Homo sapiens: one gene and its partners. The protein of the gene in region 5 purifies or fractionates together with the protein of the main gene of each other region. This does not show direct contact. Each region holds a gene or a part of one and is shown on either strand. Other genes may lie near its edges.

Region 1 (3,500 bases), on a different chromosome or scaffold from region 5:
TGAAACCCTGAAGATCTTGATGCTCCTTTGTGCTCTCTTCGAAACTCGTCTCCCTGGCTCCACTCCTTGGATCATCTCAACCTCAATCTGACTAGCAACCTGGAATCCCTTGACCCCCTTGATTTTCCAATACTGAATAAACCCAACCCCTCTTAAGTCGATGGACAATGGTTGCAGAAGCACTGGGAGATAAAAACCAAGATACGCACATTTATAGTAACAATAACAAACATCCGAAATATCTACCCATAGGGAAACAGCTAAATAAACTAAAATATATCCACTTTATTACATGCCATGTGACAGCAAAAAAACTGTGTATATCTACAAATACTGACATGGAAAGATTCTGCAAAGTATTGTTAAGTAAAAAAAAAAATAGAATGATACGTAAAGCATGACACCATTAAATTAAAAAAACATACACAGAGTACTATGAGTTTTCTACATATATATATTCACTCACGTATACACACATACACATATATGAAAATGCCTAACAAAGGAATCTGGGACGACACACACCAACTAATATCAGTGGTTATCTCTGGGGAAAAAATAGCAATTTAGAGTATGGTCAAATGGGAATGTATTATCTACGAGATTTGTTTTATAAGAACTAATTTAAGTTTTTTTTAAAAGAACAAGAAAAACTGAAAATAAACTTAATGCCTAGGAATAAGGAGATTAGTTAAATAAATGATGATATATACATGGAATAGATTATGAAGTTATTAAAACCATGTTCCAGAATATTTAATACTCATGGTATATAAGTAAAAAATGCAAATTATAAGACAGTACGAAGCAATGTAATCCCAATTTAATTTTTTAAACTCCAAGTATAGAAAACTAGACTAAAATACAAAATACATGAATGATAATTGTATCTTAGAATTTTATAATGGGTGAGCGCCAGCTTTCTAGTTCATAGACAGCATCTTCTCACTGTATCTTCACATGGTGGAAGGGGTGAATAAGCGCCCTTGAGCCTCTTTTATAAGGGCACCTCCTAATACCATCACACTAGGCATTAGGATTTTACATATGAATCTCATGGGGACACAAACATTGAGAACACAGCAGTGCCCTTATAAGCACAAATATGAGAGTTTTTTGTTCTCTCTCTGCTCTCCGTCATGTAGATACAAAGACAGCTATCTATAAACAAGAGGGCCCTCACCAGACACAGGATCTGCTGGCACTTTGACTGTGGACTTCCAGCTTCCAGAACTGTGAGAAATAAATGTGTGCTTGTATAACCCAGTCTATGGTAACAGGTAATACAGCAGCCAAAGCTAAGATACCAACCACCTTTAAGCATTTCTTCATCAGGGCTGTTGCAGTAACTTAAATAAGATAGTTTTCTCACACTCACTAGTGTGAAAACCCTTATTTGTCCAGATTCTCATAGTTTTTCACTAGAGTTTACATGCCTCAAGGGCAGAAAACCTACCTACCTCATTCCCTTATCCTGAGTGCTTAACACAGTACATAACTTTTATTTGATGTCCAAAACCTGCTTTCTGAATAAATTGCCTCTTTATTCTTTATTCTCCGGAGCACTCGGCATAGCAGCCTGCCCTGATACATGAAACAGCTTGCAGAATAACAGAATGAATACACATGGGAACCTGGGAATACTTTACCTTATGGATTTGGTAAATGACATCAGGCTGAGTTATACTTAAAATGTCATTGTTGCCTTTCAGCGGCCTGGCATGATCTTTAAATTCCTGACCTCGGAAGTGTTCTTCGTTTAGCTTCTCCCGCTGGATCATGGTCCCCATCCCTCCATCCAGCACCATAATCCTCTTCTGCAGAATGGCATTGATCTCATCCCGCAGGGTTTTCTTCAGACCTTCTTTAAAGAAAGTGAAAGTTTGACTTCAAAGAATGAAAGGTGAAAAAGATGTGTGAGGGAGGAGCTTTAGAGAAATTTATAATAATCTCCAATAAGGAGTAAATGGAGTTTATAAAAGATGCACTCATAACTCTATATAGGAAAACGCTGCCCAAAAAGGTCATTAAGTCGTGACAATGCCTAATACAAGATTGCACACAGCACAAAATTCCTGGTGAAGCACGAAACCAAGGTGAAGGTAGGCTACACTACTCCTGTTTTACAGATGAGGAAAACAGGCAATAATGGGCCAGTGATACAAGACTTTGCTCTCTTTCCTTGTTAATTCTGTGCAGATACTCCCTAAATAAAATGATTTAGCAGAGATAATTGAAAACCATCAATAATTCCAAACTATTCTTTAAAATATTAGCTTTGACCTTCTCCCTCACCTATTGCCAGAACTAATAATGGCCTGCAAACAGAGTTTTACTCACCTCTGCCCAACTATGAAATAATAACTGGCTAACACCCTTGAACTTCTCAACTCTCCCCATGCTCCTTGACTTCTAATTCCCAGTCCAGAAAAGGGCCCAATGCTTACTCCTTCTAATCCTGCTTTCTGGTTTCTACGACCTACTGGAAAGCCACAAAACTATGCTGACTGGAGTCACTGAAAACTTGCAACGTTCAGCCTCCTTTGGTTCACCTTTTCTTGACCTCCCTCAATACTTCCAACATCTACTGTCCCAATTTCTACTTTTTTTTTTAGCACCAAATCCTTTTCCTCCTCACTCCACAAGTGATTTCACCTAATCCCGTACAAAGAAGTTTTCTGTTGGAGGCTCCTCAAACTCACACCCTCTCCACCTCAAAATCCTCTTGCAGTCTGGCTCACTCTATTTCCCTTCTTTCTGTACCTAAGGAAAAGCGCATGATGACCAACACCTCCCACTGCTCCCTCATCTAGCCCTTCCCACTCCCACAGTTCCACCTCAGCAACCACCGATTTCTTATCCTTCTGACATGGCTTCCTCCTCCACCACTCTCCTGAAATTACTTTCTAAAGTCACCAATGACCTTCTAAATATCAAAAACACCTGGCCCCAATCTTAGACCCAGCTTTTAAACTGTCCACTGGATATGGCTACCTCAACTACCCACCTGCCCCTCAATCTAATATTCAAAACCAAACTTGCATATATTCTCTGTCTCATCTCCTGATTTCTGTAAATGGCAACACCCTTCCCAGAAGACTAACCATAAAATCTCAGTATTATCTGACTCCTTATTCTCCCTGATAACCAACATCTACTTAGATCCCAAGCCTTATAGATTTGGCCTCTAAAATGCCATGCACAATGGTCCCACCTTCCTCGCCCTGTGACAACCCCTTTCTTCAACCCCTTACTACACAGGCCAGCTATCACCAATCCTCTCTGAGCTCTAGTTTGCATCCATGCAAATGAGATCATACATCTATGGAAGTGCCTTGTAAACTATCAAGTGTCCTACAAAGGTAAGAGATCACCACCATACCCAGTCGCCCTGTGTTCTAATCCATCCTGTGCACCACTACCAGATTTATCTTCCTATACAACAATTTTAAACCAGTTGCTTCCCCTGCTCAAACACCTTCAACAACTCCCTATAGCAT
Region 2 (2,599 bases), on a different chromosome or scaffold from region 5:
CTCCCAAAGTGCTGGGATTACAAGCTTTACAGGCGTGAGCCACCGCGCCCGGCTCAAGTGATTCTTGTGTCTCAGCCTCCCAAGTAGCTGTGATTAAAGGCGTATGCCACCACACCTGGCTAATTTTTGTATTTTTAGTGGAGATGGGGTTTCACCATGTTGGCCAGTCTGGTCTTGAACTCCTGACCTCCACTGATCCATGCGCCTCGGCCTCCCAAAATGCTGGGATTACAGGCGTCAGCCACCATGCCCAGCTTAATTTTTTTTTTTTTTTAATTATTTGTAGAGATGGGTTCTTGCTATACTGCCAGGGCTAGTCTCAAACTCCTAGCCTCAAGTGATCCGCCTGCCTCAGCCTCCTGAAGTGTTGGGGTTACAGGCATGTGCTACTGTCCTGGTTACCCTGAAAAATTTTTGGCCAATCCCTGTCATTGTTATTCCAGTGATGCCTCTGGTTATATGAGGCATATGTGGGGTGGGGGAAATATCTGACAGCCCCATTACCAAAAGAAATCTTTATTCTTCAGCAGGTAGACAACATCTGCCAGCCCTGGTCCTCAGGGCCACACTCATATGCACTCACCCCTCAGCAGCATATCGCCCCTTTTCTGACATATAAATGCAAGAGACCCAGGACCCTAGATCTTTCTTCAAACGCAAGTGTCTCACACACACTTATTTTACAAATCCACTAGAAATATGGACTCTTATGTTCTTTGTACAGCCATGCAACAGAGGCCTAGCATTTGTGCTGTGTCTGTGGGAAAGGCAGTCAGAGACCAGTGGTTTCCCTGCTTTGGGGAAGATGGCTCAACAGTTAGTAATCCCAGGTTAGATTGTCAGAACAGTCTAGGCCAGGACTGAGGGCTCAGCTGCCAGGGCTCCCCAACAGAAACCTGTAGGCAAAAAGAAAGTTGGCAGCATTAGTGATGAGGCTCATCTTGGTCCCATCTCTCCCCACGACCTAGAAACTCACCACTCCCCTCTGGCTGACACTGCTTCCTTGCGCACCAGTCTCTTCTTGTCATCCAGGGGTTTGGCTAAGGCCCGAATCACCTGTGGTTTGTACGGCAGCAGCTGTGGAGTCAGAGGATATAATCAACCTTGCTCATCCAAGGCAACTGAAAGTACCGCTTTTTTGATTCTGTACAACTAATATTCTGAGGAAAGCAAAACATCTTTAGTGATTCCAAGGGATGTTAAGTGGCAGGATGGCCTTTCTGTTACCTTCTGGGCCCAAGGAAAAGAATCCTTGGGCCCAGAATTACAAGATCTGTACCTTGTAATTCAGATCTCAATTACACACCAGGGTGGCCAAGCCCACCTGACTAAGGCAAAAAGGTACTTATGTGTCTCTTGAGATGTTCCCAGGCCAGGGAAGGACACCTGAGGTACTTACCACAGGGGTGGGCAGGCGAGTGAGAGCATGCATGCACTGCAGTGCGGCGATCCGGACAGCCTGGAACACAACCACAAGGAGGTGAGAGCATGCCCAGGGAGAGATGCTGGTGCCTAAGAGTTGCTGGGGCTCAACGCACCATGGAAGGGCTAGAGCTGAGGTTCAGAAACTTGGTGACGAGGGTGTCCACGTGAAGACTCATGACTTGGGGTGCTTCCAGTAGAAGAGGCTGAAGGCAGCTGAGGGTGGAGAGCTGCACCACACAGTCAGGGCAGGACAGGGCCTCCAGCAGCAAGGAAAGAAGCTAAGGGGCAATGGGCAAGGTAGGGGATGGCCACATCATGAAGATCCTGGTTCTTGTTCCCTCCCCTTTCTAGCCCCATCTGGGGAAGAATAGCTTTGTCCTTTGCTTAGAAGCTCTGCCTGTGGGACTTACCGTGGGCAGCTCTGGCAAGAGTACAGGCTTGGGCAGCCTGTTAAGTACATGAGAAAGACCCTTCAAGTAGTTTGGCTTCACATCTGTAAAAAATGGAAAGGCTTAGGGGAGAAATTGGACTTAGATATATAGCTTGAGAAATCAATTCCAATCTGTGGTGAGGCTGAGACATCAGCCTACAAACGGGTGAAAGAGCCCTTCACGCTCAGAATAAGCAAGATACGCCCATGAAAGGAAGAAGTGGGACAAGAATCTAGAAGTTTAGTCTTCTAGGCACAGACCACAATATAGCTCTAAAGAAGCAAGCGGGCCCTAAATTATCTTAGGGAATGTGGCCAAGCAAAGGAGAGATGTGTATATGTGGGGACCTTCTTTCAGACTCCTCACCTTGGGGAGCAGCATGGAAGCCCTGGACCAAAGCAGGCACATTATCTGTGAAGAACCGCTGGCGGAACATGATCCGCACTTCGGCATGGCCAGCACGAGTCAGCACATCAGTGCAGTCAGACATGAGCAGAGAGAAGCCATCAGCTGCTGCTGGACCTAATTCTGGGTCACTCAGGAGGCCCATGAGCTGGAGAAAAAAGAGCCTTTGAGGTACATCAGGGAAGAAGAATCTTAAGTGCCAAAGATAAGGATGGGGCCGGGTGTGGTGGCTCATGCCTGTAATCCTAGCACTTTGGGAGGCCAAGGCAGGTGGACTGCTTGAGTCTAGGAGTCTGGGCAACATGGCCAAACCCAGTTCTTACAAAAAATACAAACAT
Region 3 (4,010 bases), on a different chromosome or scaffold from region 5:
GCCTTGGCCTCCCAAAGTGCTGGCATTACAGGCTTGAGCCGCCACCATGCCCAGCCGAAACATCTTCTCAACAGACTTGTTTAGGCAACCCTGCTCAGAGACCTGAAACATCTCCCATGTGTCCCTCCTTCTCTTCCCAGGATACCCTTTAATAGGCAGCCTCCTCCTGTGCTGGAGGCATTACTTCTCTTTCCTCTGTAGCCATCTTCCTGTCCTCTTCCTCCTCAAGTCTACTCATGGAACTTCCCTCAGTACCTCCCAGCTGGGACATCCAGAGCCTTCCTTGGCTTGAAACTTAACTCCTTTTCTTATCCCTAATTAGACTGAGTTCTCCAAGAACTGGACCTGTGTCATCCTCGTTGGTTACTCTCTCAGAGGTGAGGTAATAGAACCAACCAGAATTCATCATTCACTCATTCATTCATTCATCAATACCTCCTTTATGCCAGGCACTGGACTAGCAGACCCCTACTCTTAAGAAATGCAGAGATAAAGGCCTGCATGGTGGCTCATGCCTATAATCCCAGTACTTCTGGATGCTGAGGTAGGTGGATCGCTTGAGCCCAGAAGTTTGAGACCAGCCTGGGCAACATGGTGAGACCCTGTCTTGACAAAAAATACACAAATTAGCCTGGTGTGATGGTGCAAACCTGTACTCCCAGCTACTGGGCCTAGACCTGAGCCCAGGAGGTCTAGGCTGCGGTTAGCCATGATCGTGCCACTGCACTCCATCCTGGACAACAGAGATATTGGTGGGTTTGTTTTGTTTTTGAAACAGGGTGTCACTCTGTCACCCAGGCTGGAGTGCAGTAGTGCAGCCTTGACCTCCTGGGCTCAGGTGATCTTCCCACCTCAGCCCCCCCACCACCAAATAGCTGGGACCACAGGTGCGCACCACCATGTCTGGCTAATTCTTGCGTTTTTTGTTGAGACTGGTTCTCACCATGTTGCCCAGGCTGGTCTTGGACTCCTGGGCTCAAGTGATCCTCCCGCCTTGGCCTCCCAAAGTGCTGGGATTACAGGCGTGAACCACAGCGCCCAAAGATTATTATCAGAAGAGAAAAACATCTGAATAAATTAATCTAACATGATAAGTATGATTATAGCCCATGCATAAAATCTATGGGAGCAGCAGAGGAAGCAAAGGATTCTAGCTATGAACTAGATCTTAAGGAATAAATAGGCGGAACACAGGGAAAGGCAGTCCAACAGAGGGAAACATGCCACTCACTTGGGATTAAGTGGAAGGACAAAGAAAATTTTAAAAGATCACAAAGGTATCTTCACTATCCTTTTTGGTATAGGTCACCCGAGGAGGAAAAGAATCTTCAAGCTAAATAAAATACAGAGTACTGATTCCAAAACTCAAGAATAGAGAATCCCTCAAGTGAGACAGCAATCATAATTTGCCTTAGTTACAGTCTCCCTTAATCCTTCTCCCTTCTCTCCCCTCTCTCTATTCTCCTTAGAAACACAATACAAAATCAAACAGAAAGAGTAAGAGAAAGCTACACACACAGTAAGAAAATAAACTCAGAGAGCTTGAAAAAAGGCAGAGCTTAGCCAATCTGTCTTTGACTCAGCACTTAATGTCATTCCCGGTTGTTATCCTATTTCCTTATATTGCATATTCTGCAATGATTCAGGGAAGGGCAGAGCTTATATGAATGAGCAGTTAAGTAAATTAAAACACATGCGTGCACACACACACACACCCCTCCAAATACAGATTTGAAAACACTGGCCAACCACAGGAAAGCCATCAGTTCCTCCAAGGGGGTGTACAAGGAACAAGTGTTGGTTGTTAAGCATGGAAAATAAACCAGTAAGTGAATGACATCATCTCAGAGTTATGAACTGAGGACTGTGGGCGATGGGAGGGATTTTGTACATACACATGCTGTCTCAAAAAAATAAAAAACCGAAAAACAGTTTTCCTGTCCTTCTCAGGTCTGGAACTAGTTTTCCTTTAACAGAAGACTGGACATGGACTTTGCTCTTTGAATCCTAATAGAAAGGAAGGGAGTGGTGGAAGGAGCAGGTTTTCCTTTCATTCAGAAAATCAGATAGAACCTTTCTGCCCCACCCATCCTTCCAGCTCCAGTCTCTCTCTCTAAAACAGTGTCTTTGAAAATGTGGCCCAGGGACTACCTTCCTCACAATCACCTGGGGTGAGGGAAGAAGCACAGCAGTGCTTGTTATAAATGCAGATTATGGGCCCCAAACCAGACCTTCTGGAACTGAAGCTCTGGGACAGGTCCCAGGAATCTGCATCTCAAACAAGCTTCCCGGGTAATTTCACCCCCTGTTTGACAGGCATTGTCTGAAAGCGGCATCTCAAAGCCTAAGAGTCCCCCAGATCCCTTGAGGCGTCTTGTCCGGTGGCATCGCTGGGCAAGTTTGGTAGCCAGCAGTAACTGCTGAATTTCAAGGAGCCATTAGGATCACCTACATTCTCCCGACTCCGGAACCCCAGAACTTGGAAATAGGAAGAAAGTTCTTTGTAAGCTTTAAAGCGCAGCACATTAGTCAGGGGACAATGCGCCGCTCACAGTTCCACTCGGGCCCACGGCGCCCGGGCTGAGGATTCCCGTCCCACTGAGCAGTCCCACCGCCCTCGCCCCTCAGGCTTCACGCCCGACACACGCCCCAATCTCTCCCGGGACAGCCAAGCCCCCGACCAGCGGCACCACTGCGAGACCCTTCTCTGACCCTCTCCGCACTCACAGGCTGCCCAGCCTGGGCCCGCTGCTCTCCTCTCCATGTTCCTCCTTCTTCCAGGTTTGAATCTCCCGCCGTTGGGCCACCGCCCCTCACCGTCGGCACCGCCAGACAGGACACTTCCCGTCCACACCGCTGAGAATCCTGGGATTTGTAGTTCCCGGCCGCGGAGCCGGGCCGCCCAGGTGCTGGGAGAAGAGGCGCCCCAGGCCGGGGCAGTACCGCTCCCCTTACAGCAGTTCCTCGTCTTGTTCCTTCCAGGCTCCTTTTCTGCTTAACAGTCTTATTCTAGCTGCTGCCCCTGCCATTGCCTCTGTCATCTCCACCTAGTATTCCCATTAACCCCTACTCTGCTTCCTATGTGTTCCCGAGTCCGGCTAACTTGTGGGCCTACTTGGCGCTATGCACTAAGCTAGGTGATGCGAATGCAGAGATGTATGAGGGCAGTGAATGCTCTAAAAGAGTTTGCTGTTCTGGCACAAGTGATAGACATATAGTCAAATAAATTAGAGGTCGGTGATGCACAGAGGGAGGGGGTCATTGCTGTGAATAAGAGCAGCGAATGACAGGGAAGACGTCCTGGTGGAAGTGACAGCTGATTTGGGTTGAGAAGTGAAAGAGAATTCATCAGATTGAAGAAGAGAGGCAGTGCAGTCAGTGGAGACAGCATGTGCAAGAACGAGGAGGTGAGTTCGGGAACTTAAACTTGGTTCAGTTTTAGAGGAGAACAAAGCTCAGCCAGGGAGAGGCCAGAAGGGATCCTGGAGGCACAGGGCCAGGTCCAGTAGCACCTTGGGCACCATGCTAGGGCCCTGGCATGGGGTCTGGTGAGCAGTCACCAGCCAAGGAACACTTTAGACATAGGTCAGAGCCAGATTTGTCCTTTAAAAAGAGCCATCTTATAGCAGGGGATTGGAAGGGGGTGAGGCTAGGGGCAGAGACCAGTTGGAAGGCTACTGCAGTAGCACAGAAGAGAGATAATAAGAGCCTGAACTAGGCCAGGCACGGTGGTTCACACCTGTAATCCCAGCACTTTGGGAGGCGGAGGCGGGCAGATTAACTGAGGTCAGGAGTTCAAGACCAGACAGGCCAACATGGTGAAACCCCATCTCTAGTAAAAATACAAATATTAGCCAGGCGTGGTGGGGTATGCCTGTAATCCCAGGTACTCCGGAGGCTGAGGCAGGAGAATCGCTTGAACCCAGGAGGCAGAGGTTGCAGTGAGCTGAGACTGTGCCACTGCACTCCAGCCTGGGCGACAGAGTGAGACGCCGTCTCAAAAAAAAAAA
Region 4 (3,536 bases), on a different chromosome or scaffold from region 5:
TGGGATGCGCAGAGCTTGCTGGGATCCCTTTGGGTTAGGGGGTATCAGGGTGTGGTTTACGCTGGGGAAATGCCCTGCGGGAGCCCAGCCAGGCTGAAGGCTGTGCGTTCAGGAGCTGGGGATTGTCTAGGACAAGGTAATGAACAGTTTGTAGGGTTTGACTGGGATCCTTAGGGAGACAGAGAAGTGGCTTCACTTGGCCAGCTCACACCAGTGGCATGATGTGACCCTCACCCCACTCCTCCTGGTCCCCCTTAGGTGGGGGCTAGGCAGTGGGAGAGGAGGTGAGGGTGGGCGTGGGCTCACTCATAAGCCTGGTGAGCTGTAGCCAGGCCAGAGGCTCTGTTGGGTAAGTGGGGAGAGGATATTAAGAAAGGGGAGGAGCTGGGTGCAGTGGTTCACACCTGTAATCCAGCACTTTGGGAGGCCTAGGTGGGAGGACTGCTTCAGTCCAGGAGTTTGAGACCAGCCTAGGCAACATAGTGAGACCTTGTCTGTACAAAAAAATTTTGAAAATTAGCCAGGGATGGTGGTGAATGCCTGTAGTCCCAGCTACTCGGGAGGCTGAGGGAAGAGGATTGCTTGAGCCTGGGAGGTGGAGGTTGCAGTGAGCCCAGATCACGCCACTGTACTCCAGCCTGGGCAACAGAGTGAGACCCTATTTCAAAAAATAAAATAGGAAAGGAGGATAGCCACTCTCTTGTTCATCTGCTGAATCAGTTTGCTAAGACTTGGAAGGGCGGGAGCGGTTTGGGCCCTGGGCTTCATGGCAGGGAGGGGTAGGGAGTGGCCTCCCTCTGGTCAGGCATCTGACCCCCCATGCCAGAGAAGGACATGTGATTGCACTTGCTGTGTGATTGTGATCCACCGCATGTCTCACCTTATGAATAGGGTGACCATATTATTTATTTATTGTCTACACTAGGGTACTCTTGCCAGTCAAGAGTGCTAATAATTATTACTCTGGGACTGTAGGCAAACTAGGACCATCCCAGATAAATGAGGCCATAGTGTCACCCTACTTATAAGCAACCTCACCCGACTCAGTGTAGACATTACCTGCTTACCTCATGGCCGTGGCTTGGGGTGGAACCATCTGTCTTGCTCCATCCTCACCTCTGTCTCTCCCCCTTAATAGCTGTCCTTGCCATCAGCTGAGGCAGCACACAGGAGTGGTTTAGAGCTAGGCTTTGGAGCCACATACTCTTGGATTTAACCCTGGCACCGTCACTTAGAATCTGTGTGCAATTGCTTAATCCCTGCAAAATCTCATCTTCCTCATGAGGTGGCAGCCACTGGCAGGACTAGAAATTAGAGCTGTAAAATATGGGGCACCTAGTAGGTCCTCAAACTCCTTGGCTCAAGTGATCCTCCCACCTTGGCCTCCCAAAGTGCTGGCATGAGCCACCGCACTCCGCCCACCTAATAGGTCCCCAACCAAGGACAGTGACTACTTTTGAGAGCCCCTCACCACAAGCATCTTCAGCCTGGCCCTGCCCTTCATTTTGAGCCCAACTTACAAGCATGTAGATTCAGCCTTTGTTCAGATACTATCTTCACTGGAAGGCATTCCTGTCTTTGGGGGCCAGGCTGTTGATGGTGGGGCGCTGGGGGTCTCAGGGTTGCAGCTGGAGATGGGTGATATTCATTCCTGCATAGCCTCCTGAACCGATCCAGTGCTTGGCTGGCTTGCACCTGCCTTAATGATCCATGTCAGCCCCTAACATCCTCCTTGGTTTTGAGGTCCCCCTGGAGCCTCAAGCTCCGATGTGGGTGTGTGTGTTATTCATGTCCTAGCCTTCATAAGCCATACAGAGCAGTTGTGTTTGGATTCGCAGTTGGGCCTCCCTGCTGAAAACTGTGACAATGGGATTGACCGTGGGCCCACTTTCCTCCCAGCCATTCTCAACTGGCCACAGCTGCTTCTAAGCAGCCTGCCTCCCAACCATGTTCACCCTCCTTGTTGTTGGGTTCAGAGTCTCTTTGACTTCCGATGCTTATGTCCTGATAAACCCATCACAAAGTCGAAGAATCCTAAGTCGAATCATCACCAGTCAGGGGGCTGTCTGTGCTTTGGTGTTTTCGGGTAGGCCCAGCGTCTCTCATCTTCCTCCAACTACCTTCTGTTTTCTCGTCCTTTTTAGCTTCTCCAGAATCATGCACCAGACGGTGAAGGAACTGTCACCAAAATGTAACGTGTCCTTCCTCCTGTCTGAGGATGGCAGCGGCAAGGGGGCCGCCCTCATCACGGCCGTGGGCGTGCGGTTACGCACAGAGGCAAGCAGCTAAGAGTCCGGGATCCCCAGCCTACTGCCTCTCCAGCACTTCTCTCTTCAAGCGGCGACCCCCTACCCTCCCAGCGAGTTGCGCTGGGAGACGCTGGCGCCAGGGCCTGCCGGCGCGGGGAGGAAAGCAAAATCCAACTAATGGTATATATTGTAGGGTACAGAATAGAGCGTGTGCTGTTGATAATATCTCTCACCCGGATCCCTCCTCACTTGCCCTGCCACTTTGCATGGTTTGATTTTGACCTGGTCCCCCACGTGTGAAGTGTAGTGGCATCCATTTCTAATGTATGCATTCATCCAACAGAGTTATTTATTGGCTGGAGATGGAAAATCACACCACCTGACAGGCCTTCTGGGCCTCCAAAGCCCATCCTTGGGGTTCCCCCTCCCTGTGTGAAATGTATTATCACCAGCAGACACTGCCGGGCCTCCCTCCCGGGGGCACTGCCTGAAGGCGAGTGTGGGCATAGCATTAGCTGCTTCCTCCCCTCCTGGCACCCACTGTGGCCTGGCATCGCATCGTGGTGTGTCAATGCCACAAAATCGTGTGTCCGTGGAACCAGTCCTAGCCGCGTGTGACAGTCTTGCATTCTGTTTGTCTCGTGGGGGGAGGTGGACAGTCCTGCGGAAATGTGTCTTGTCTCCATTTGGATAAAAGGAACCAACCAACAAACAATGCCATCACTGGAATTTCCCACCGCTTTGTGAGCCGTGTCGTATGACCTAGTAAACTTTGTACCAATTCAAAGACCCGAGTGATGCTTAATGGCTGGGGACGGGGGGACAGGCAGAGGGGGGTGCAGTTTCTTGGGATGTGGCAAAGACCAAACACTGGGGAGTTTTGTGGCCTTCTGGGCGGAGGAGTTTTTTTTTTTGAGATGGAGTCTTGCCCTGTCACCCAGGCTGGAGTGCAGTGGCACAATCTCAGCTCAGTGCAACCTCTGCCTCCCGAGTTCAAGTGATTCTCCTGCCTCAGCCTCCTGAGTAGTTGAGACTACAGGCGTGCATCCCCACACCCAGCTAATTTTTGTATTTTTAGTAGAGAAGGGGTTTCACCATGTTGGCCAGGCTGGTCTCCAACTCCTGACCTCAAGTGATCTGCCTGCCTTGGCCTCCTAAAGTGCTGGGATTATAGAACAAGGCCACTTGGCTTCCAGGCTGCTTGGGTTCAGTGAGAGGACTGCAACACTGGTCCCCTCTCTGCCATCCCCACCCGGATCCTGCCCTTCATCTTCCTCTCTGCCAACC
Region 5 (3,030 bases):
CCTCCCCTCTTCTCTCTCTCTGCCTCTCCCCTCCCCTCTTCGCTCTCTCTCTCTCTCTCTCTCCTCTTTCTTTCTTTTTAGAGACAGGGTCTCACTCTGTCACCCAGGCTGGAGTGTGGTGCTGCCATCATAGCTCACTGCAGCCTTGAATGCCTGGGCTGAAGGAATCCTCCCACCTCAGCTTCCTGAGTAGTTGGGATTACAGACATGTGCCACTGTGCCTGGCTAATTTTTACATTTTTTGTAGAGATGGGGTTTTGCTGTGTTGTCCAGGCTGGTCTCAAACTCCTGGACTCAAACGATCCTTCTTCCTCAACCTCCCAAAGTGCTGGGATTACAAACGTGAGCTACTGTGCCTGGCTCAGAGTAAGCTTTCAAAGGGAGGGAAAAGTTGATGATTTCTCAATCCATTCCACTTTCCCCTTCTACTCCTTCTCATTCTTGAAGTCACAGGAACTCTGTGAGATGACCACAGTGTTGCAAACACTGACCTGATGTTGACATAGTTCGTAAAAGACAGCTGCTTTGCCTTGTCCAGCTCCCGTAAATGCAGTATGGGAACTCGTATTGATAACAACAGCACAATGGACAGATTTCTGAGAAGGTTTTCTCACTCATTGGACAAAGAGTTTGGAAGAGAATTTCTGTGTTTGTGTTTGTCTTTTTCTTCTGTGAAAGTTTTTTCTTTTCCTCCCTCAAAAGTGGTTTAGTTCCTCTATATATGTAATGACACAGTATTAAAACTGCTTATTTGAAAAAGTTTTTTGGATTCGATTGGCATTGATCTATGTAATTAAGAATAGGATTCTTTGTGTTTGTGTATATTTCCATTTTATTTATTTTATTCTAACTTATTTATTTTTATTCTCAGCCTTGGCCAAGCATTTCCCACTTGGCGAAGGACTTTATAGACAAACTACTGATTTTGGAGGCTGGTCATCGCATGTCAGCTGGCCAGGCCCTGGACCATCCCTGGGTGATCACCATGGCTGCAGGGTCTTCCATGAAGAATCTCCAGAGGGCCATATCCCGAAACCTCATGCAGAGGGCCTCTCCCCACTCTCAGAGTCCTGGATCTGCACAGTCTTCTAAGTCACATTATTCTCACAAATCCAGGCATATGTGGAGCAAGAGAAACTTAAGGATAGTAGAATCGCCACTGTCTGCGCTTTTGTAAGCAGATGACCTCTAAAACTATTTTTGCCTATTTTAGGACCATTTCATCATGATTAGGGCACCCTCAAGCTCCAAAGACACGGGACTCCATGGTATTGTTGGATACTATTGATCTTGACTTTTAACATTTTCTTGTTCTATAATTTTTCCTATACCTGTATTCATTTTCCCAAAATATACTGCTGCAAATGATTAACAGTTTAGTAAATACTAGCTATGTTTAGATAACTGGAAACAATAAATAGATAAGAAAATCTTTAAAGTATGTAATGGATTAAATAAAATACAATACTATAGAAATAAGGGATGTATATGTGAAGGCATGGTGAACCAGAGACATAGCAGGAATAGTTAGATATGGGGAATATATGTATTTATCCTGAAATTACTGATTTTTATTTAAGCCCCAGTATACAGTGTTAACTAGGTAACACTCGAAGTAGTTATAAATGTCTGTTAATTTCATATTTAGTCTGCAAATATTTATGAAAAATTATTAATTATGGGGCCTATAAAGAACTATAAGATATAATTTCAATCTATCAGAAACTTTTAGTCTAATTGGGGCATTATTCACGGGAAAAATAGAGATTTTTAAGAATCATAAAATAGTGATTTTTTTCTAATGTTAGCATTCATCAACCACCAGGGTTTACAAAAAAATATAAACATCTTGCTTCTTATCACTACTGTCAACTCTTTTCAGTATGTACTGGTTTCTTTTAGAATTATTTAATCAAATATCTTGATGACTTTAAACACTCACCATGAAATAATTATAGGTAATGCAATAAAGGGGTAAGTTTCAAAACTTAGTTCTCTAGGCAAGTCACATATGGCCTGATCTCTTATATGGTAAATTTTTGTAAAATGATATAAAGATTGAAATATTATTAATCATATCTGTGAGTCACTCATATGTGTGGGTAAACATAGTAAATAAATGATTAATTAGTTGATATTGCTTATTTTATTCAGAAAAATAATAAAATGTTAGAATGACATTTACTGTAACTTTAAAATCAGTCTCAATTTTTTCATTTTATTTTTCTCTTTTAGGCTATATAGATGGAACAGCTATATATCTGATATATAGATAAGAATATGTAATTAGTGACACAACTATTTTCTTTTTATGTTGTAATGCTGTATCACATGATATATGACAGACCTGGATTAATTCCTTTAATATAGAAAGACACTTACAAATTCATTAGATAAATAATAGAAAAATGGGCAAATATTTTACCAGGTGGTTTATAAACATATAGATGGCTAATGAGTAAATGAAAAAAATGCTTCATTTCATTTGTAATTTACAAAATGAAAATAAAAATGACAAAGAAAATGAAAATTTAAAAGGCAAAGAATTTTTTTTTACCTATTAGATCAAAACAGTTTTAAACTTGGATACTACATATGGTAGAAGGTTGCAGGCAAGCAGATACTCTCATGCCCTGCAGAGAGAGAGGAGTGCAATTTGGTGCCACCTCATGGCCTTGGGGGACAGTTTGGTAGTAATATCTACTCACATTAAAAATGCATTGACCTTTGATCTAATTGCATCATTGGTAGCAATTTGTCCTACATATATTCTTGCCAAAGTGTGTATAAAACATTGTGCATAAGGTATAAAACATTGTTATTATATTAACAGTCATAAATAAATGCCTATTAGTAGGAGAATGCCTTAAAGCATGTTACCTTTAAGCAAAGGTCTACTATGTAGCCATTAAAAATAATGCGGTAGATCTGTAAGTTTTGTTATATAACATGTTATTGTGTTAAATGAATAAGCAAAAAGCACAGAAGTATTACAGTATGTATTTGTGTGAAAAAAATATGTTCAGAAGC
Region 6 (3,500 bases), on a different chromosome or scaffold from region 5:
AAAAAAACATTTTAATGATGCCTTCAAAGCCTTACTATAACAGAAAGTTGAGGGATAAAAATGAAAACAATATTTGTACAAGTTATTTATAACAGATTAGGACAAAGGTAAGAGTAAGAGTAAAGGAAATCACTTAGAAAGCTTAGTTTTCAAAAAACTCAGATCAGGGTCGCAGTAACAGGAGTGTAGGCAGCATAAGATAATGACTTGGAAAGAAATACACAGAACAATTAAAAGTTAGAAATCAAAAACAAAAATCAGTTGGATTTAAATGTCGAAGATCAAGGACAGAATAACTTTGAGGAAGCTGTGGCTAGAAAAACACAGAAATTAGAAAAGTATGGGATTAATGAACTCAACTTTCCAAATGTAAACAGCCAATGTCAACGTGACACCTACGTCCTTTGAACAAGTGGAAAATATACAAGACAAATCAGTGAGGGGCCAGGCACAGTGGCTCATGCCTGTAATCCCAGCACTTTGGGAGGCCGAGGCAGGCGGATCACCTGAGGTCAAGAGTTCAACACCAGCCTGGCCAACATGGTGAAACCCCATCTCTACTAACAATACAAAAATTAGCCAGGCATGGTGGCACGTGCCTGTAATCCCAGCTACTCAGGTGGCTGAGGCAGCAGAATTGCTTGAACCCAGGAGGCAGAGGCTGCAGTGAGCCGAGATCGCGCCACTGCACTCCAGCCTGGGTGACAGAGCAAAACTCCAACTCAAAAAAAAAAAAACACCGAAAAAAAAGAAACATCAATGAGAAATTAGAAATTGAGACTGTAGATTTGTGTATTATACATATATAAGGTAGAATCTTAATACATGTAAACATTAGCACCCAGGAGAAATAGGTAAAAAATTTTAAGTGTGTACAATAACAGTTATGTATATACGTATACACATACTTGAGAGACATAACAGTGACTCCAACTTCCAAAATATTACAAATCTTAGAAACTGTGTATCAACAATAACTGACTATATGCCAAAGACACACACATTCCTCTGTATGCAGGTGCACAGGCTAAAAAAGACAGGACTAAGTTCTTGGTAGTGACTACACAGATATTTTTGAATTTCGAAAATGATGCTAAATCATGGGACTGCTAATCAACTACTGAAATATAAGCTAATACATATTTGTTAAAAAATTACTTCTCTGGTCTGGTGCAGTGGCTCACACCTGTAATCCCAGCACTTTGGGAGGCCAAGGCGGACAGATCACAAGGTCAGGAGTTCGAGACCAGCCTACCCAACACAGTGAAACCCCATCTGTACTGAAAATACAAAAAATTAGCCAGTCATGGTGGCAGGCGCCTGTAATTCCAGCTACTCAGGAAGCTGAGGCAGGAGAATCACTTGAACCCGGGAGGCAGGGGTTGCAGTGAGCTGGGATCATGCCATTGTACTCCAGCCTGGGCGACAGGAGTGAAACTCCATCTCAAAAAAAAAAAAAAAAAAATTACTTCTCTTCCAGAACTTCGTTTTCTCTCCTACACCTGTTCCTCTTCCCAGAATTTTCTCTATCTTAACGATGACACCATCATCCACCCAGTTGCTCAAGCAAAAAATCTAGGAGATCTTGATTCCTCTCCCACTGATCCAATCCAATAATACTAACCTATTGATCCCACTTCCAAACTGACATCCAAATCCTTTCCATCTTCACTACCACCCTATTAACAACATCATCTCATGCTGAGACTTGAAATGTGGCTGGTACACGTTATTTACACTCAAATAATAAGATTTTGGAAAATTTTGGTCGAATACAAATATTGTTAATTTCACCTATTTCTTTTTTCTTATAAAAACATGGCCAGTAGAAAACTTAAAATCAACAGGTAGCTTACATTATATTTCTGTTGTAAAGCACTGTTTTAAACTATAACATTTAGGTAATAAAAGTGCAAAGAAGGCCGGGCACGGTGGCTCACGCCTGTAATCCCAGCACTTTGGGAGGCCAAGGTGGGCGGATCACAAGGTCAAGAGATGGAGACCATCCTGGTCAACATGGTGAAACCCCGTCTCTACTAAAAATACAAAAGTTAGCTTGGCGTGGTGGCATGCGCCTGTAGTCCTAGCTTCTTGGGAGGCTGAGGCAGGAGAATTGCTTGAACCCGGGAGGCAGAGGTTGCAGAAAGCCGAGATTGCACCACTGCACTCCAGCCTGGTGACAGAGTGAGACTCCTTTTAAAAAAAGAAAAGAAAAGAAAAGAAAAAGTGCAAAGAAAACAAAGGCTGCGCTTACCATAAAAGTCAGGATAATGTTACTCTTAAGGAAATGGAGTGGCAAGTGGAGGAGGAAAGAGAGATTGTGTTTGAAAGGGAATCCATGGAGGGATTCTGGGATAGTGGCTGTCAAAGTGATGTCTCCTATCATAGGTGATCGTTAACAAGTTGGTATTACCTTCTAATAGTTCATTAAGTTATACATTCATTTTGTACATTTATTATTAGAATAAAAATTCTAATAATTTTTAAAATTATTTTCAAAGTAGGATTTAGATCTTTAGATTTAGGATCTGAAAATGAGACTCATTAATATGTGTCCTGGGGCTTGTGGTCCTGTACACATGAAGCGATCTTAGGGCAGGCAACATGCAAATTAAAAGCCCAAAAGGACTATTCTAGAGTCCAGGAACTCTGGGAGCTGATCCTATTAAGCACCATTACAGAGAAGCGGGACAGCCTAGCTGTGAAGGGCACAAATTCTGGAGCCAAACCACCTAGATTCAAATTCTGACTCCACTACTGCTAACTATGCAAACTTCAGCAAGTTACTTAAACTTTCTGTGCCTTTGTTTTCTAATGTGTAAAATGGGCTATCTCATGGGGCTGTTGTAAGGACTGAATTACTTAATACACATAACTACTTAAAGGCAGAGAAAAATTAAGTACTTCATTTGGATGTTTGCTAGTTTTATTGTTATTTCTACACCAAAGAGATCTAGATCTTCAGAATTGAATACGATTATGTGAAGTAATCCCATACACTACTATAGAAGAAGCAGAGAGTCAAATAGCTTTCCTAACACATTCTAAGCTTATTTATCTGAAAAGTCAAAAATTCCAGGAAACATTACTCCCTCATATTACAATACAGCCAGCAATTCCCAAAGGTATGTTACCCTCCATGCAGCTTTGGTCTTCCTTTCTAATTATGGCTCCCATTTCCTCTCTGACTCCCCACTCTTTTAACAGCTGCTAATGTAAGAGAGAAATCATGGTCTGGTTAAGAAAGAAACATAAGAACATTGAGATAAGCATGTTACACTTTAACCAGGCCAGAATCAGCACTAATTCTGTAAAAAGAATCCTAACAAGAAAACTAAAACTCCCCAAAGAAATTCTGAAAATTTAGAGGAAAGGAGCATATCTGTGTCCCTTAAATACTAAGAGTTAGTTTACCTGTTCATCTGAAGCTAGACTAGTGAACAGTGGAACAATTTCACTTTTCACACTGTCTAATTCCAAAACTTTTGCAAATTCACCCA
Region 7 (3,500 bases), on a different chromosome or scaffold from region 5:
CAGCTCACTGCAATCTCCCCCTCCTGGGTTCAAGTGATTCTCCCACCTCAGCCTCCCAAGTAGCTGGGATTACAGGTGCCTGCCAGCACACCCAGCTAATTTTTTGTATTTTTAGTAGAGACAGGGTTTCACTATGTTGACCAGGCTGGTCTAAAACTCCTGACCTCATGATCTGCCCACCTCAGCCTCCTAAAGTGCTGAGATTACAGGCGTGAGCCACCGGGCCCAGCCGACAACCTGATTTTTTTAAGTGGTAACAAATTTTAACAGACACTTCATCAAAGCAGATATACAGATGGCAAATAAGTACATGAAAATATGCTTAGGCCGGGCGCGGTAGCTTACGCCTGCAATCCCAGCACTTTGGGAGGCTGAGACGGGCGGATCACAAGGTCAGCAGATCGAGACCATCCTGGCTAACACAGTGAAACCCCGTCTCTACTAAAAATACAAAAAATTATCCAGGTGTGGTGGCGGGTGCCTGTAGTCCCAGCTACTCAGGAGGCTGAGGCAGGAGAATGGCGTGAACCTGGGAGGCAAAGGTTGCAGTGAGCCGAGATCATGCCATTGCACTCCAGCCTGGGCGACAGAGCAAGACTCCGTCTCAAAAAAAAAAAAAACGAACAAACAAGCATTATCTAGAAATTCCACTTGTAGGTATCTACTCCAGAAAAAGTCTCACTGTGTACATAAACATTATGTGCAGTATCATTTGTAATAGGTAAAATGTGGGAACAACTTATATCTACCAATGGGAGAATGGATAAATAGAATTACTGTATATTCACATATTGGAATTCCATATAGTAGTGAAAGTAAATAAAGTAGAAGTACATGTAACAAGCCAGTAAATCTTAAAAATGTATTAATTATAAACACTGCAGGCTGGGTGTGGTGGCTCAGGCCTATAATCCCAGTACTTTGGGAGGCCAAGGCGGGCAGATAAAGAGGTCAGGAAATTGAGACCATCCTGGCCAACATGATGAAACCCTGTCTCTACTAAAAATACAAAAATTAGACAGGCATGGTGGCACGTGCCCACAGTCCCAGCTACTCCAGAGGCTGAGGCAGGAGAATCGCTCAAACCCGGGAGGCGGAGGCTGCAGTGAGCCAAGATCGCGCCACTGCACTTCAGCCTGGGCGACAACTCAAAAACAACAACAACAACATTGCAAAAGAAGAAGATGTTATTTTTATATTTTAAGACACACAAAAATGCAAAGTATTGATTACAGATGTAAACTATGTAATCCTCATATATTAATATAAACAACGATAGAAGAATACCAACTTCAAGACAGTAATTACCTTCTGGTAAAGGAATGCTGGTAACGGAAGGAGCTCCACGTATTTCTGGCAAAATCTCTACCTCTCTTTGTCCCAAAACAATCACTCCCTCAATTCCGTATTTTTGCCTAAGGAATCATTAAAACTAATCACATCATGCTGTACATGGCTACTTACCTCAGTCACTACAAAAAGCCTAAAATACTCTGGTCATTATTCATAACCTGCAGACTTATTCCTTGCATCTGGGTACAGCACCTCGTCTGACTCCATTTTCCACCCTTCTAATCAGCGCCATTATATTCTCTGACACTTTCATCAGCAAAATCCCCTATATTCTCAAACTCTTCTCTGAATGTTCCCATCTTTTTCTTTAACTGAAACCTGGTTCTCTCCCAGGGATCCTCCTGCAACCCTCTGAAATAGCAGCTGTTTTCTCTCCCATAACCCTCATACCACCAGGCCTACAGGTGGGGAAGCTTATGCCTTTATACTATGTCACCTGCTACCATTGCTGGTTGTCCATTAAACCCCAGGTCACTTCCCTTATTTTTAAAAAATACCAGTACCTTGTTCACTGTCTCTCCAGTGCAATCCCAGTAATAAGTATTGGTGATTTTAATATCCATACAGATGGTATCTCTAAACCTCTGACCTCTTCATTCCTCGACCTCCTCTTCTCCAATGATGCCATCCTCCCTACAATGATCACCCACTGCCACAGCCTATCAGTAACAGCATCCCTTTCTAATTTCATTCCCAAGCACTCACACTCCTGACTCCAAACTTCTTTCACTCTCTCTTGACCTACAATCCACTGGTTCTACCAACTTTTTGCTGTCCCTGTCAGCCCGTTCTTGCTTCCCTCCTAACCGAAGATTCCACAGTCGATGTTCCAACCACTCAACTTTTTTGCTTCTCCCTCTGTTCACTAACCTGGCAAAACTTCAATCCTGATTAAATCCTATCTCTAAGCCTTCAGTGCTTTAACCTGCAGGCTGTAGCTGGAGAAAAACATTCACCATGTAGCTGGAGAAAAACATTGGTAATACTTTAAATTCATAAGCACTAACTTCAACAGGCTATTAGTCCTATCGAACAATCCTACATTTCCCTAATCCATTTCCTAGAAGACAATTTCATATCTTCTTTTCTTAATATAAACCTCTGTGCTACAGGCTTCAAAAGTTTGTCCTCATCCTTTTTCTTTCTTACTCTGCTTCCTTTTCTCCACTACATGTCCAGCTTTTCTTCCCAACTGCCAGCCCTCTGAGTAACAGCAGCCTTGGGAAGACACCTGGCTGCAAAAACAAAGCCACAAAAGAGGCAATAGCCTTCCATGACTTATGTAACAGCCTCCCTCTGAACCCTACTCCAGCAGCTCAACCTGCCTAGTTTTCTAGTCTAATTCCTCTAATAAACACCTAATTCCACAATACTCATAGTGGTTCTGTTTCCCTGTCTGAACCCTGAATTTCTGCTACAGGAAGTGGTTAAAAGAAGTCCTTAAAGATATGAACCTGAAGTTGCTTCTCTGATTTGATTGAAGGTATTAATGACCAGTTTCCAATGGTAAAGGGGCTACTAGTAGTCCACAGCATGCAGTGGCAAAATATTTAAAATCATCATCTGCAGACAAGGACCTACAGAAGACAAAGCCTTGGGTAACTAACTAGTGGATGCCATAGAAGATTTTAGTAAAAATAAGTTGTATAATGGGTTAATTAGTTGTTTCTAGGTACACTGGATAATTCTTTTCTCAGGAAAAGAAAATGATGAGCTCGGAGTTTTAAAAGCACTACTCAAATCTGGGTAAGGGGGCCAGAAATCTATAACTGCCTTCATAGAAAGCCTTATATCATGTGGCTACAGGGCTGAGACTTCTACAAAGTATATCCTGCAGGTGGCTCAGTTACAATGCAAATTGAATTCACACTCTTGCAGGACATCTTATGTTAAAGTTAGGACCTTGACTGGCAAGGAATGGGGCCCTGAAAAGTAGAATGAAGATATATGGACAGACTCTGATGAAGCCAAGTACCCCGAACTCCTAAATTCTGTGACATCTTCTGCTAGTAGAAGCATCAGTCCTTTATCCCATATGTGAGGAAATTAGTCTTCCTTTGCCTGTAGAGTATATAATGGCCTCCCCTGAAACAGCTGCCTTACAGGGGACTGCTGATCTTCCTGAAGATCTACTCCTAAAACCTCTC

Evidence for each region.
Region 1: the proteins of PSKH2 (region 5) and MTR purify together in Homo sapiens (affinity purification with mass spectrometry; one large-scale study listed by BioGRID and IntAct). This does not show direct contact.
Region 2: the proteins of PSKH2 (region 5) and MMS19 purify together in Homo sapiens (affinity purification with mass spectrometry; one large-scale study listed by BioGRID and IntAct). This does not show direct contact.
Region 3: the proteins of PSKH2 (region 5) and IQGAP3 purify together in Homo sapiens (affinity purification with mass spectrometry; one large-scale study listed by BioGRID and IntAct). This does not show direct contact.
Region 4: the proteins of PSKH2 (region 5) and HK1 purify together in Homo sapiens (affinity purification with mass spectrometry; one large-scale study listed by BioGRID and IntAct). This does not show direct contact.
Region 6: the proteins of PSKH2 (region 5) and PPP2R1B purify together in Homo sapiens (affinity purification with mass spectrometry; one large-scale study listed by BioGRID and IntAct). This does not show direct contact.
Region 7: the proteins of PSKH2 (region 5) and COPG2 purify together in Homo sapiens (affinity purification with mass spectrometry; one large-scale study listed by BioGRID and IntAct). This does not show direct contact.

The regions. Positions count from the first base shown.
Region 1 is NC_000001.11:236,801,792-236,805,291, reverse strand, and holds part of MTR (methionine synthase), read right to left. Parts: intron 1,865-3,500; coding exon 1,650-1,864; intron 1-1,649. UniProt on the Homo sapiens protein: Catalyzes the transfer of a methyl group from methylcob(III)alamin (MeCbl) to homocysteine, yielding enzyme-bound cob(I)alamin and methionine in the cytosol. MeCbl is an active form of cobalamin (vitamin B12) used as a cofactor for methionine biosynthesis.
Region 2 is NC_000010.11:97,457,824-97,460,422, forward strand, and holds the end of MMS19 (MMS19 nucleotide excision repair protein homolog), read right to left. Parts: intron 2,410-2,599; coding exon 2,223-2,409; intron 1,919-2,222; coding exon 1,836-1,918; intron 1,704-1,835; coding exon 1,539-1,703; intron 1,460-1,538; coding exon 1,400-1,459; intron 1,078-1,399; coding exon 977-1,077; intron 897-976; coding exon 869-896; 3' UTR 501-868; downstream 1-500. UniProt on the Homo sapiens protein: Key component of the cytosolic iron-sulfur protein assembly (CIA) complex, a multiprotein complex that mediates the incorporation of iron-sulfur cluster into apoproteins specifically involved in DNA metabolism and genomic integrity.
Region 3 is NC_000001.11:156,569,766-156,573,775, forward strand, and holds the start of IQGAP3 (ras GTPase-activating-like protein IQGAP3), read right to left. Parts: upstream 2,801-4,010; 5' UTR 2,765-2,800; coding exon 2,728-2,764; coding exon of another isoform or gene 2,713-2,727; intron 1-2,712.
Region 4 is NC_000010.11:69,398,847-69,402,382, forward strand, and holds the end of HK1 (hexokinase-1), read left to right. Parts: intron 1-2,144; coding exon 2,145-2,289; 3' UTR 2,290-3,036; downstream 3,037-3,536. UniProt on the Homo sapiens protein: Catalyzes the phosphorylation of various hexoses, such as D-glucose, D-glucosamine, D-fructose, D-mannose and 2-deoxy-D-glucose, to hexose 6-phosphate (D-glucose 6-phosphate, D-glucosamine 6-phosphate, D-fructose 6-phosphate, D-mannose 6-phosphate and 2-deoxy-D-glucose 6-phosphate, respectively).
Region 5 is NC_000008.11:86,046,609-86,049,638, reverse strand, and holds the end of PSKH2 (serine/threonine-protein kinase H2), read left to right. Parts: intron 1-871; coding exon 872-1,177; 3' UTR 1,178-2,530; downstream 2,531-3,030.
Region 6 is NC_000011.10:111,756,390-111,759,889, forward strand, and holds part of PPP2R1B (serine/threonine-protein phosphatase 2A 65 kDa regulatory subunit A beta isoform), read right to left. Parts: coding exon 3,415-3,500; intron 1-3,414. UniProt on the Homo sapiens protein: The PR65 subunit of protein phosphatase 2A serves as a scaffolding molecule to coordinate the assembly of the catalytic subunit and a variable regulatory B subunit.
Region 7 is NC_000007.14:130,658,749-130,662,248, forward strand, and holds part of COPG2 (coatomer subunit gamma-2), read right to left. Parts: intron 1-3,500. UniProt on the Homo sapiens protein: The coatomer is a cytosolic protein complex that binds to dilysine motifs and reversibly associates with Golgi non-clathrin-coated vesicles, which further mediate biosynthetic protein transport from the ER, via the Golgi up to the trans Golgi network.